2 separate regions of the Homo sapiens genome follow, and region 1 is linked to region 2. Evidence: fine-mapped expression QTL. A gene starts in region 2. The other region holds a variant in brackets. All regions are shown on one strand. Distances are between the middles of the regions.

What was found. PIP is the estimated chance that this variant, and not a neighbour inherited with it, causes the effect.
Region 1: its variant is the best candidate, but not a certain one, in a credible set for the expression of GFER in esophagus mucosa (GTEx, PIP 0.50).

The regions. Positions count from the first base shown.
Region 1 is chr16:2,008,145-2,013,503 of GRCh38, reverse strand. ZNF598 (zinc finger protein 598, E3 ubiquitin ligase) reads left to right here and starts at 3,683. Exons shown (of 14, transcript NM_178167.5): 1 at 3,683-3,766; 2 at 3,768-3,879; 3 at 3,881-3,980. The coding sequence starts at 3,757. It overlaps LOC124903626 (a long non-coding RNA gene), which reads right to left and starts at 3,619. Exons shown (of 2, transcript XR_007064941.1): 1 at 3,402-3,619; 2 at 2,916-3,196. It also overlaps the pseudogene RN7SL219P. RefSeq lists silencers at 1,279-1,474, 3,565-3,784, 3,875-4,304, 4,315-4,384 and enhancers at 3,325-3,484, 3,009-3,957. The variant T/C (reference allele first, on the strand shown) is at 2,201.
Region 2 is chr16:1,981,589-1,986,947 of GRCh38, reverse strand. It overlaps GFER (growth factor, augmenter of liver regeneration), which reads right to left and starts at 2,755. Exons shown (of 3, transcript NM_005262.3): 1 at 2,472-2,755; 2 at 2,005-2,201; 3 at 1-1,082. The coding sequence starts at 2,729. The coding sequence ends at 920. It overlaps TBL3 (transducin beta like 3), which reads right to left. Exons shown (of 22, transcript NM_006453.3): 22 at 4,019-5,359. RefSeq lists silencers at 2,464-3,003, 4,024-4,216.

The DNA.
Region 1 (5,359 bases), 27 kb before region 2:
ATTAGGCTGTAGATAAAATGGTTGATTAGAGGCAGGGTCTCACTATGTTGCCCAGGCTGATGTCTAGTGGCTATTCACAGGCGTGATCCCACTACTGATCACAGGAGTTTTGACCTGCTCTCTTTCCAAACTGGCCCAGTTCACCCCTCCTGAGGCAACCTGGTGGTCCCCTGCTCCCAGGAGGTCACCAAGTCGATGCCAAACTTAGTGCAGACACCTGACTGACACAGCCCACTATATCCTCAGAACTCCTGGACTGACACAATCCTCCTGCCTCGGCCTCCCGAGTAGCTGAGACTACACGTGCGCACCACCACACCAGGGAATATAAAATTAAGGTTGCTAATTAGCTGGCTTTATTTTATTTTATTTGAAACAGAGTCTTGCTCTGTCACCCAGGCTGGAGTACAGTGGCATGATCTCCGCTCACTACAACCTCTGCCTCCCGGGTTCAAAGCGATTCTCCTGCCTTAGGTTCCCAAGTAGCTGGAATTATAGGCGCCCACCACCATGCCCGGCTAATTTTTGTATTTTTAGTAGAGATGGGGTTTCACCATGTTGGCCAGGCTGGCCTCGAACTCTTGACCTCCAGTGATCTGCCTGCCTCAGCCTCCCAAAGTGCTGAGATTACAGGCCTGAGCCACCACATCAGGCCAGCTGGCTTTAATAGGAGATTAGCGGCTGGGCGTGGTGGCTCACGCCTGTAATCCCAGCACTTTGGGAGGCCAATGCAGGCGGATCACCTGAGGTCAGAAGTTCAAGACCAGCCTGACCAACATGGAGAAACCCCGTCTCCACTAAAAATACAAAATTAGCCGGGCGTGGTGGCGCATGCCTGTAATCCCAGCTACTGAGGAGGCTGAGGCAGGAGAATTGCTCGAACCGGGAGGCGGAGTTTGCAGTGAGCCGAGATTGTGCCATTGCACTCCAGCCTGGACAACAAGAGCGAAACTCCACCTAAAAAAAAAAAAGCTGGGCGGGGTGGCTCACGCCTGTAATCCCAGCACTTTGGGAGGCCGAGGCGGGTGGATCATGAGGGCAGGAGATGGAGACCATCCTGGCTAACACGGTGAAACCCTGTCTCTACTAAAAATACAAAAAGAAATTAGCCGGGTGTTGTGGCGGGTGCCTGTAGTCCCAGCTACTCGGGAGGCTGAGGCAGGAGAATTGCTTGAACCTGGGAAGTGGAGGTTGCAGTGAGCCAAGACTGTGCCACTGCACTTCAGCCTGGGCGACAGAGACTCCATCTCAAAGAAAAAAAAAAGATTGGACCACTGGCCTCCCCCAGAGTCAACTCTGAAAGACAGAAAGCAGCCATGAGCCAAGGAGTTCGGGCAGCCTCTAACAGCTGGAAAAGGCAAGGAAGCAGATTCTCCCCTGGAGCCTCCAAATAGGAATGCAGTGATACTGACACCCTGATTTTAGCTCAGTGTGACCCACGTTAGAGTCTGGACTCCAGAACTAAAGATAATACATTTGTGTGTTTTAAGCCAAGTTTGTGGCCTTTTTTTTTTTTTTTTTTTTTGAGATGGAGTCTCACTCTGTTGCCCATGCTGGAATGCAGTGGCGCAATCTTGGCTCACTGCAAGCTCCACCTCCCGGGTTCACACCATTCTCCTACCTCAGCCTCCGGAGTAGGTGGGACTACAGGCGCCCGCCACCACACCAGGCTAATTTCTTTTTGTATTTTTAGTAGACATGGGGTTTCACCGCGTTAGTCATGATGGTCTTGATCTCCTGACCTCGTGATCCACCTGCCTCAGCCTCACAAAGTGCCAATTTCAAGCTGGGATTACAGGTGTGAGCCACCGCGCCCAGCCAAGATGTTGAACTTCTTACATCCTTACAATAACTTTTCCCAGTTTTCTTTTTTTTTTTTTGAGATGGAGTCTCACTCTGTGGCCCAGGTTGGAGTGCAGGGGCGCAATCTCTGCTCATTGAAACCTCTGCCTCCTGGGATCAAGCGTTTCTCGTGCCTCAGCCTCCCGAGAAGCTGTGACTACAGGCGCATGTCACCACGCCCCGTTAATTTTTGTGTGTTTTGGCCAGGCACAGTGGCTCATGCCTGTAATCCCAGCACTTTGGGAGGCCAAGGCAGGTGGATCAAGAGGTCAGGAGATCGAGACCATCCTGGCGAACATGGTGAAATCCTGTCTCTACTAAAAATAAAAAAAAAAAATTAGCAGGGCGTGGTGGCGGG[T/C]GCCTGTAGTCCCAGCTACTCAGGAGGCTGAGGCAGGAGAATGGCGTGAACCCGGGAGGCGGAGCTTGCAGTGAGCCGAGATCACGCCACTGCACTCTAGTCGTGTGTGTTTTTTTTTTTTTTTTTGAGATGGAGTCTCGCTCTGTTGCCAAGGCTGGAGTGCAGTGGCGTGATTGTCGTGATCTCGGCTCACTGCAACCTCTGCCTCACGGTTTCAAGAGATTCTACTGCCTCAGGCTGCCGAGTAGCTGGGACTACAGGCACATGTCACCACGCCCGGCTAATTTTTGTATTTTTAGTAGAGATGGGGTTTCACCATTTTGGTCAGGCTTGTCTCCAATTCCTGACCTCAGGTGATCCCAACCTCCCAAAGTGCTGGGATTACAGGCGTGAGCCACCACGCCCGGCCTAAAAATTTTTTTTGTGGAGATGGAGCCTGACTGTGTAGGCCAGGCTGGTCTCAAATTCCCAGGCTCCAGCAATCCGGGCCACCCAGCCTCCCAAACTGCTGGGATTACAGGCTTGAGCCACTGTGCCTGACAGCTTTTTTCAAGTGGCAAAATTGGGGTTTCAAGCCCATTTGTGTCTGTTTCTAAAGTCCAAGTTCACTGGGCATGGATCACTTGAGCCCAGGAGGTTGAGGCCTCAGTGTGCTGTGATCGTACCACTGTGTTACAGCAAGAGCAAGACCCGGTCTCAAATAAAGTAAGTAAAGTTCAGGCTCATTGATACAATTTACTGCCTCTTTTCCAGTAGGGTTTAGATCTGGACCTGCCTTCTGGATGGCAGAGGGAGGGAGGTCCTGAGTGTGCCTGGCCCTCAAGGGTAGGGAGGAGGCCCTGTTACTGCAGCATCCATCCAAACACGTCCTGTGCTGGGCCCAGCGTAAAGAGGACAGGTTCCGTTCGTGCCTTCCAGAGGCCCCTTCTGGGCAGGCCTGGCGAGACTGCCCTGGGCTGCGAGATGGACGTCACCACGTGCTGCCTTTCACGTTGTCTTTCATGTAGGGATTTAAACAGGGCATTAGGGAAGTGGAGGCGGGACCACGCTTGTGTGTGTTCCAAATACCAGAGACCGGTTTCCTAATAAGGTGGCCAGATTTAGCAAATACAAATACGGCAGGTCCACTTAAATGTCAATTTCAGATAAGGAGCAGCATTTTAGTATGAGCCTAGCCCATCAATATTTGGGCTATACTTACACTAAGACATGACCCCTTGTTCATCTGAGATGCAAACCAGTTGTGCCGTGTTTCATCTGACAACGCCAGTTCGTGGAGCCCGGCGAGTGTTGACGTGACACGCGTGGCCCAGAGGAGCCCGGGGCTGGCCGCGTGGCCGCGCGGACCTTCGAGCGGTCGGCTCATGGTAGAGCGGCCTCTATCAGGGCCACCGCTCTAGCCGGCGCCGCGCTGAGGCGGAAGTCGCGACGCGCACTTGCGCCGGGCGGGCCCGTTGCTGGGTGGGGCGGTGACGTTTGCCCGGAAGGGGCGGGCCCGCCGGGAGCCAGGCCGCTCGGCGCCACGACCGGCCGAGAGGGGGGCCGGATCCCGGACCATGGCGGCGGCCGGGGGGCGCCGAGGGGCGGCGCGCGGACATGGAGGCGGAGGCGGCGGCAGCTCCTGAGCGGGGAGGCGGGAGCTGCGTGCTGTGCTGCGGAGACCTGGAGGCCACGGCGCTGGGGCCGCTGCGACCACCCGGTGTGCTACCGCTGCTCTACCAAGATGCGGGTGCTCTGCGAGCAGCGCTACTGCGCCGTGTGCCGCGAGGAGCTGCGCCAGGTGCGGGGCGCCGGGGGCGCGGCCCGGGGGCAGCGGGGCTCCCGGCGACCGGATGGGGACTTTGCCTCACTGAGGTCCGGCCGTGGGCCCGGCGGCGCCGGCTTCCGAGAGAGGCCTGGTGGGGCCACCCAGGGCGGGGTCCCGGCCGTGCGGCTGACGGCGGGGCGTTGGGGCTTGGAGGCCGGAGGCGGCCGAGCGGGTTGCAGGAGGGGGCAAGCCCTGTGGGGACAGCCTGGGGACTTCCCCCGTGTCCCGGGGGTTCCTGCCGGGCCTCAGGAAGGGTCCTGATCAGATGGAGAACTCGGTGACCTGCTCGTCTTCAGGAGTTTATTTTCCAGGGTCCTCCATTCGAGGAAACAAGGCAAGGGGGACTCTGCGGAGGCCATCCGTCCTGGAAGCAGGGCGTCAAACTCTGGGCATTCTCAGCCCAGCTGTGTTTCTGGGCCCCCATTGGATGACCCTGAGCAAACTCCTTCCGAGACTGACGTTTTCCTCTGTGGAGTGGAGGTGACACTAGCCTCGGAAGGAGACCTGCCCGTCGGAGGGGAAGGCCCCCTCGCGCTTCTTGGCGGGAAGGGAGAAAAGTGTTAGGAAGTTGTCCTCCTCCTCGCCGCCGCCCCCCGCCTTTGGCGCTCATCTCCGCAGTGAATGGGAGACGTTTTTGACTGTACAGACTTGGAAGCCGTGGAGGGGTCAGAGGGTACCATGCAGCGTTCCTCCACCCTCACTGCACTGCCAGCTGCTGGCTGTGGGCACCTGGCTGGAGCCCGTTGGTTTGCTGAGCTTAGAGATTTGTTTGCTTCCAGCATTGTGAAATTCCCCCGGTTTGTTCATAGAAGGCTTCGGCTGGTGACATCTGCCAGGAATCTAACTTTCTTCTCCCCAGAAGTGATGCAGAGCAGTATTGAGGTGTAGGTTCTTTCTTTTTTTCCTTTTCTTTCTTTAAGTAGACGTTTACATCAAAGGAGTTGAAGAGATGCTGCAATTCTCTGAGCAATTTGTGGGCTTATAGTCTGTGCCCTTTTTGGAAAAAGACATTTGGAGATTCTATCAGTCTGTCATGTGACAGGAGGAGGCCGACCCAGACCCCGGGGAGATCTGGGGTGCAGGAACAGTCACAGAGGACCTTGGCCCGTGGCTTCCTCAGGGCGCTTCCTGGCTTTGCCAGGGCCTGCCTTGCCAGCCAGTCCTGCATAGCATGACCTCACTCTCCAACAGCTAGGTTTCCCAGCACACCTGTAGCTTCCTTCCGGAAAGAAGACGCTAAGGAGTTCTTGGCACGTGAGGTCCCGACCCAGGCTGCAGGTCTGATGCAAGACATGAGTGAACATCTGCGTATGCTTACTGTGGCAGCCTCTGCCCGCTCTCATTCCTTGTAG
Region 2 (5,359 bases):
TGTCAGGGGAACTAGGGGTAGAAGCCATGGCTTTGCTGGGGCCTTGGAGACCTCGTGCCGTCTGGCCTCCCAGTACTCCTACATCAGCTACTCTGGCCCCCCTGCCCCAACCAATCAACGTCCTTGCTGTTCCTGGCTCACTCTCACCCTGTGGTCTCTCTCTCCTGAGGAACCAGGACCCCAGCAGGAAATGCAGCTGAGCACAGAGGGATGGAACAAGCCCTGTCTACTGCTTTATTAAGCCCCAGCAGAAAATATACTGAAGCCAGGTTCTCAGTCACTTCAGCGTTTCATTTGGGCTTCAAACTCTGATGAAGTGAGCCCCACGAATCCCCTGTGGACAGGCATGACACAACGCTGGCAGGCATGTGCCAGGCAGGGAGAGGGTAGGATGGCTGGTGGACCCTCAGAAAGACCCGACCTGAGCTTTCCCTGTAGGGACTGAGCAGAGTGGAGAATTGAGCCCCCTAAAGTGAGCAGCACAGAGCCATGGGGGGCAGGGGCATCCCTGGCTGCATAGTGGGAAGGCAATGGCCTGGCCGCCAGGGACAGGCACAGGGATGCCCAGCCAGGCCCGCTGTCTTCCCGTGTGAGGAGTGAGGCGCCAGGGTATGCGGTGGGCAGGAAGCTACATCCTGAATGTCAAGGGGCAGCCCAGGCTGCTCCTCCTTCCCTCCCCTGCAGTTCAGCTGCAGCTCCTTGGGGTCTCCACTGAGGAGGGGGCCAGTGGGTACCTGCTGTGGGCACCTCCACTTCTGCTCCAAACCTAAGAGGGGCAGGGCAGGTCCCCACAGGCAGTGTCCTGGGGACCACCCAACTGAGACACAACAGGCTCTGGCTGTGATGCACTTTAATGAGTGCCCTGCCCCTATCCAACCATGCCTGGCTAGCTGTCCCATGAGCTCTGGCTGACCACCCTCTAGTCACAGGAGCCATCCTTCCAGCCGTCGCGCCAGCGCTCATCCACTTTTGAGCAGTCGAAGTCAGGCTTGCCCAGCTTGCGGTTCACTTCATTGTGCAGGTGGCACAGCCACTGTGTGAAGCATGCCCGGGTGCGGGTGTCTGGGTGGTTCCTGCACAGCCTGTGTAGGGAGAGCAGGTAAAGAATGAGAGGACGCAGCGGCTCCACTGCCCCTGCCAGTTCCCTGTCTGCTGTCAAGGAAGGAGAGCTGGGGCACTGCTGTGAACTACACCTGGGAGTGCCCTTATGCTCCAAGGTACAGGCACTCCCAGAACAGGGCTGACCCTGCAGCTCCCCGGGTGTGATGAACTCCCAGGGCTGCGCAAACACCCACCTGGACAGCTTGGCAAACTCCAACGAGGCCTCAAGGCAACACATTACAGCACAGACCTGGCAATTTTATAAGCTCCTAACACCCAGGAAGCGGCATCCAGTGTCCCTGGCCTCAGGCAGAGTGTGGCCTGGGTGGGGCTGGGCACAGCCTTGTAACTGAAAACTGGACTTGTTTCTTAGCATCTGAGGGCAGGCCCTGGTGCGTCAGTTCAGCAAGAGACTTCATTCTAACTGACCAGCCTTATAGCAACAATGGCGGCTCTACCCTATACATCTGGCCTAGAAACACCTGCAAGGGCCAGTGCTGGCTCTTGGATCCCTCAGTGAGGAAGAGATGGCTCTTGGGAGCAAAAGCAGTGGATTTCCAAGATTTTAAAACCAGAAGTCCTACTCTAGAAGTCAGGCAAAGTGGAGTCTTCCCTAACTTGCGGGAAACCGCCTTCAGTGCCAGACAAGGCAGGGAATCCCTTCCTGGAAGCCCTGTGGCTGTGGCAGGAGCAGTACCCAGCAGCAGATCCCGACAGCTTGGCTTCTGAGACGAGAGGAGGAGGCTCAGATAGCCCCAGTCCTCACCTGTTGGAGGTCCCTGCTCCTCAGCAAACTTCTGCCACCTCTGCATCCGTTTCTCTACGTTCCCCGCTATAACGTCAGCCAGGAGCCCCAGGCCCAGGCTCCAGTGCAAAGCTCTGCTGCGTGCAAACACATCTTACCTTTTTCTTAGGTCTTCAGCACACTCCTCACAGGGGTAAAACTTAGAAAATAAATGTATGAACTGGGCCATGTCTTGCTGCTGTTCTGGGGTGGGCAGGTCGGGGTAGTAGGCGGCCAGGGTGTGGAGGACAGCCCAGCTGTGGCGGCCCAGTTCCTCGCGATCCGGCGGGCAGTCCTCCCTAAACTTGGTGTCCCGCTGCGGAAGCAGGCCGACCGAGAGTGAGTTCATTCTCCGAACAAAGGCGCCCAAAGCTCCCCACTGTACGGCCCAGCCGGTGGCCCACTGGACTCCGGCCAAAGTCCTGCAGACGATCCAACCCACGCGCGGATGAAGGCTGTAAGGCCGGGCCTACCCGGGGGGCAAGGTTCAGGGACAGGCAACCCTGGGAAGCTCTGCCGGGGTACCTGGGCGGGGGCGGGGACAGGGGCTGCGCGGGGCTGGGAGAAATCGGGCAGGGAACTGCACCTTCTGCTGCGTCCGCATCCACGTCTTGAAGTCGACGCAGGCCCGGCACGGCCGCCTCCGGGAGGCGTCCTCGGCGACAGGAGAATCGGAGGTCGGCGCCTGGGCTGGCGTCGAGGCCGAGGCGGCCGCGTCTCTCCGCCCCGCGCCCCGGCCCCGCGCGTCGGTCGCCAGGTCGTCCATCATCTCGGAGCGCGCGCCCCCCGGCAGGAAGAAGAGGTTCCCGCCGTGGAAGCGGCCCCGCTCGCCGGGCGCCGCCATGTTGCCCGCGCAAGGCCTGCCGGGTCAGCTCGGCCTCCAGATGAGCCTCCAGGTCAGCCTCCAGGCCAGCGCGCGGCCACAGGAGCCGGAGGCGCGCGCCGTGCTCGCGGGGGCCGGGCCCGAGCCGGGGCTGGGGGCAGAGTCGGGGGCGGTGCCTGCTTGCGGGCCCGTGTGGAGGCGGAGCCAGAGGCCGCGGCGCTGGCCGGGCCCGAGGACAGGGGCGGGGACGGAGCAGGAGGGTCGGACCCTGCTGGCGCCCTCAGGCGTCGATCCGCGGCGCACGCAGGGGTTGCGCCGTCCGTGGCGGCCGTCCCGCTTTCTCCAGTAAAAGAGCAGTGTGTGGCGCAAGGTGCGCCTCGGCCGCGCTGTGGACCCGAGCTGACACCCAGGCAAAGTCCGTGTTGCGGCCCGCGACGTCCCCATCGCTCCGTTCTGAGTGTCCTGCGTGCCTGCGGCCAGGCTTTGTGCCCTCCGCTGAGGGGCGCGTCCACCCGCTGGCTGCCAAGCGCTCTCTCAACGCGGGCCGGGCGTGACCGCACAGATTGCGGCGCGCGCTAGGGTCCTGGGCTCTTGTCCCCTCCCTGGCGCCATGGCAACGGGCGTCTGGCAACGCAGGGCGCGGCGCGGCCGCAGAGGGTTGGCGCGTGCCTTGGGCTCCCTGGCGCCCCTCGCCGGCTGTCGCGGATCCTAGAGCCTGGGATGAGGGGTCGGGCTCCCGGTTGGAGCGGCCTCTGGGATTCCTGTGCCTCCTTGCGTTCATTTATCCATTCCGCTATTATTTGCGCAGTGACCGCTCTGTTCCAAGCGCTGTTCCAAGTGCTGGGCAGAGCAGGGAACACAATTCTGTTCCCTGACCTTCTCTGTTCATAATCCAGTGGTCAAGACAGGAAAAAAAAACAAGGACTCACACTCATAAATGTTCACGTACAAACTGGTGGGTCCATGCAAGGGTGTAGTAAATCTGGAAGGCCTCCTTGAGGAGGTGACCCTTTCTGAAGGATGAGGAATCAGCTGAGGAGCGCCTTCGAGACCAAGCCCAAGGTGGCAGGGTCTTGGCATTTTGCAGGAACAAAAACGCCAGTGGGACGCTAGGGAGGGTTGTAAGGTGGGAGGGGAGATCCAGGGACGGACAGGGGCCCACCAAAGACTTGGTCGGCAGCTTCGGGGATTGGGAATTTATTATAACGGTAGGAGGGAAGATGCTAGACAGTTTTGGGCAAGGTTACCCAATCTGATCCCATTTCAGTTTGCTGCAGATTCCGCTGGCTATCATATGGGGAGTGGATTTCTTTTTTTTTTTTGAGACAGGGTCTTGTTCCGTTACCCAGGGTGGAGTGCAGTGGCGCGATCTTGTTCACTGCAGCCGCGACTGCTTAGGCTCAAGTGATCTCCCACCTCAGCCTCCCAAGTAGACTACAGGCACACGCCACCACGCCCAGCTAATTTTTGTATTTTTGGGGGGCACAGATGGAGGTCTCAACATGTTGCCCAGACTGGTCTCGAACTCCTGAGCTCAAGCAATCCCCCTGCCTCGGCCTCCCAAAGTACTTGGATTACAGGTGAGGCACTGTGTCTGTCCTTGGAGTGGATTTTGTAGGGGCAAGTGAGGAGCATACAGATGGAGGGTGGGGTGTACTATTCAGGCAAGAAAAGAGGGTAGGGGAGGAAAAAGTGGAAACCATGCAGGGCTGATGGGGTGTGGGGCAGGAGCTGTCAGCTGGGGTAGGCAGGTGGCCTCAGAATCCCTCTAGGCCTCTGCTTGTGAATAAATCCTCCCCAGCTTCTCCTGTCTTCCAGGGGAGCAAGGTCTCCCCTGGGTTCACACGCTGGACCCCACCAGGTCAGCTGGGCCCTCAGCTGAGACAGGGAGAAGGTGACAGCTGGCTGGGGGAACCCTGCAAATCAGCCCTATGTGAGCAGGTGTTCATTGCCCATGCCAAGACCAGGGACAGCTTGAGGGCATGAGAGAGAGTGCTGGTGGGACAGACACACAAAGGCCCTTTGTTGCAGCCAGGGCAGCTTCCTGGAGGGATGCCTTAGAGGCTGACTGCTCCCTGAAGGGGCTGGAGTAGGTGCATCCCAACACAGAACTGGTGGCCCCAGCACGAGGAAAAACCACTGTGTGCCAGGGTTGAATGTGGCTTCCGAAGCCCGAACTATAAGGAAGCAGCCAGAGAGGTGGGGCACCTGGGCGAGCCTCTGCCCAGGCCATGTTTGCAGTAAGTCATGGCAAATCGTGAATTGAGAGGTGGTTCTCAAAACAGCCCTAGTGACCACTTCCCTGACCACCACCCCCACCCACCAAATGCCAGTGACTGCACAGATGGGCCCTCTTTCTCCTACCCCAAGTCTCCTCACTGCAGGGGAACCCCTGGGGTGAGCCTGTGAGGTCTGCCCCTCCCCCAGCATGTATAGAACAGCTCACAATAATTACGCATTTAACACACATTTCCTCCTCTATGAGTTGGGGACATTAAGAGACCTTTCCTCCAGCATTAGGATTAAGTCAGACAAAGCACTTAAAGCTGTAAGCACTGAGTCCTTGGTTCTGCACAGAAATCCCCAGGCCAGTTCAAAGTTGTTGGGCGCACCCTGGCAGGGCAATTACCTCACAGGGTAGGGGAATCCAG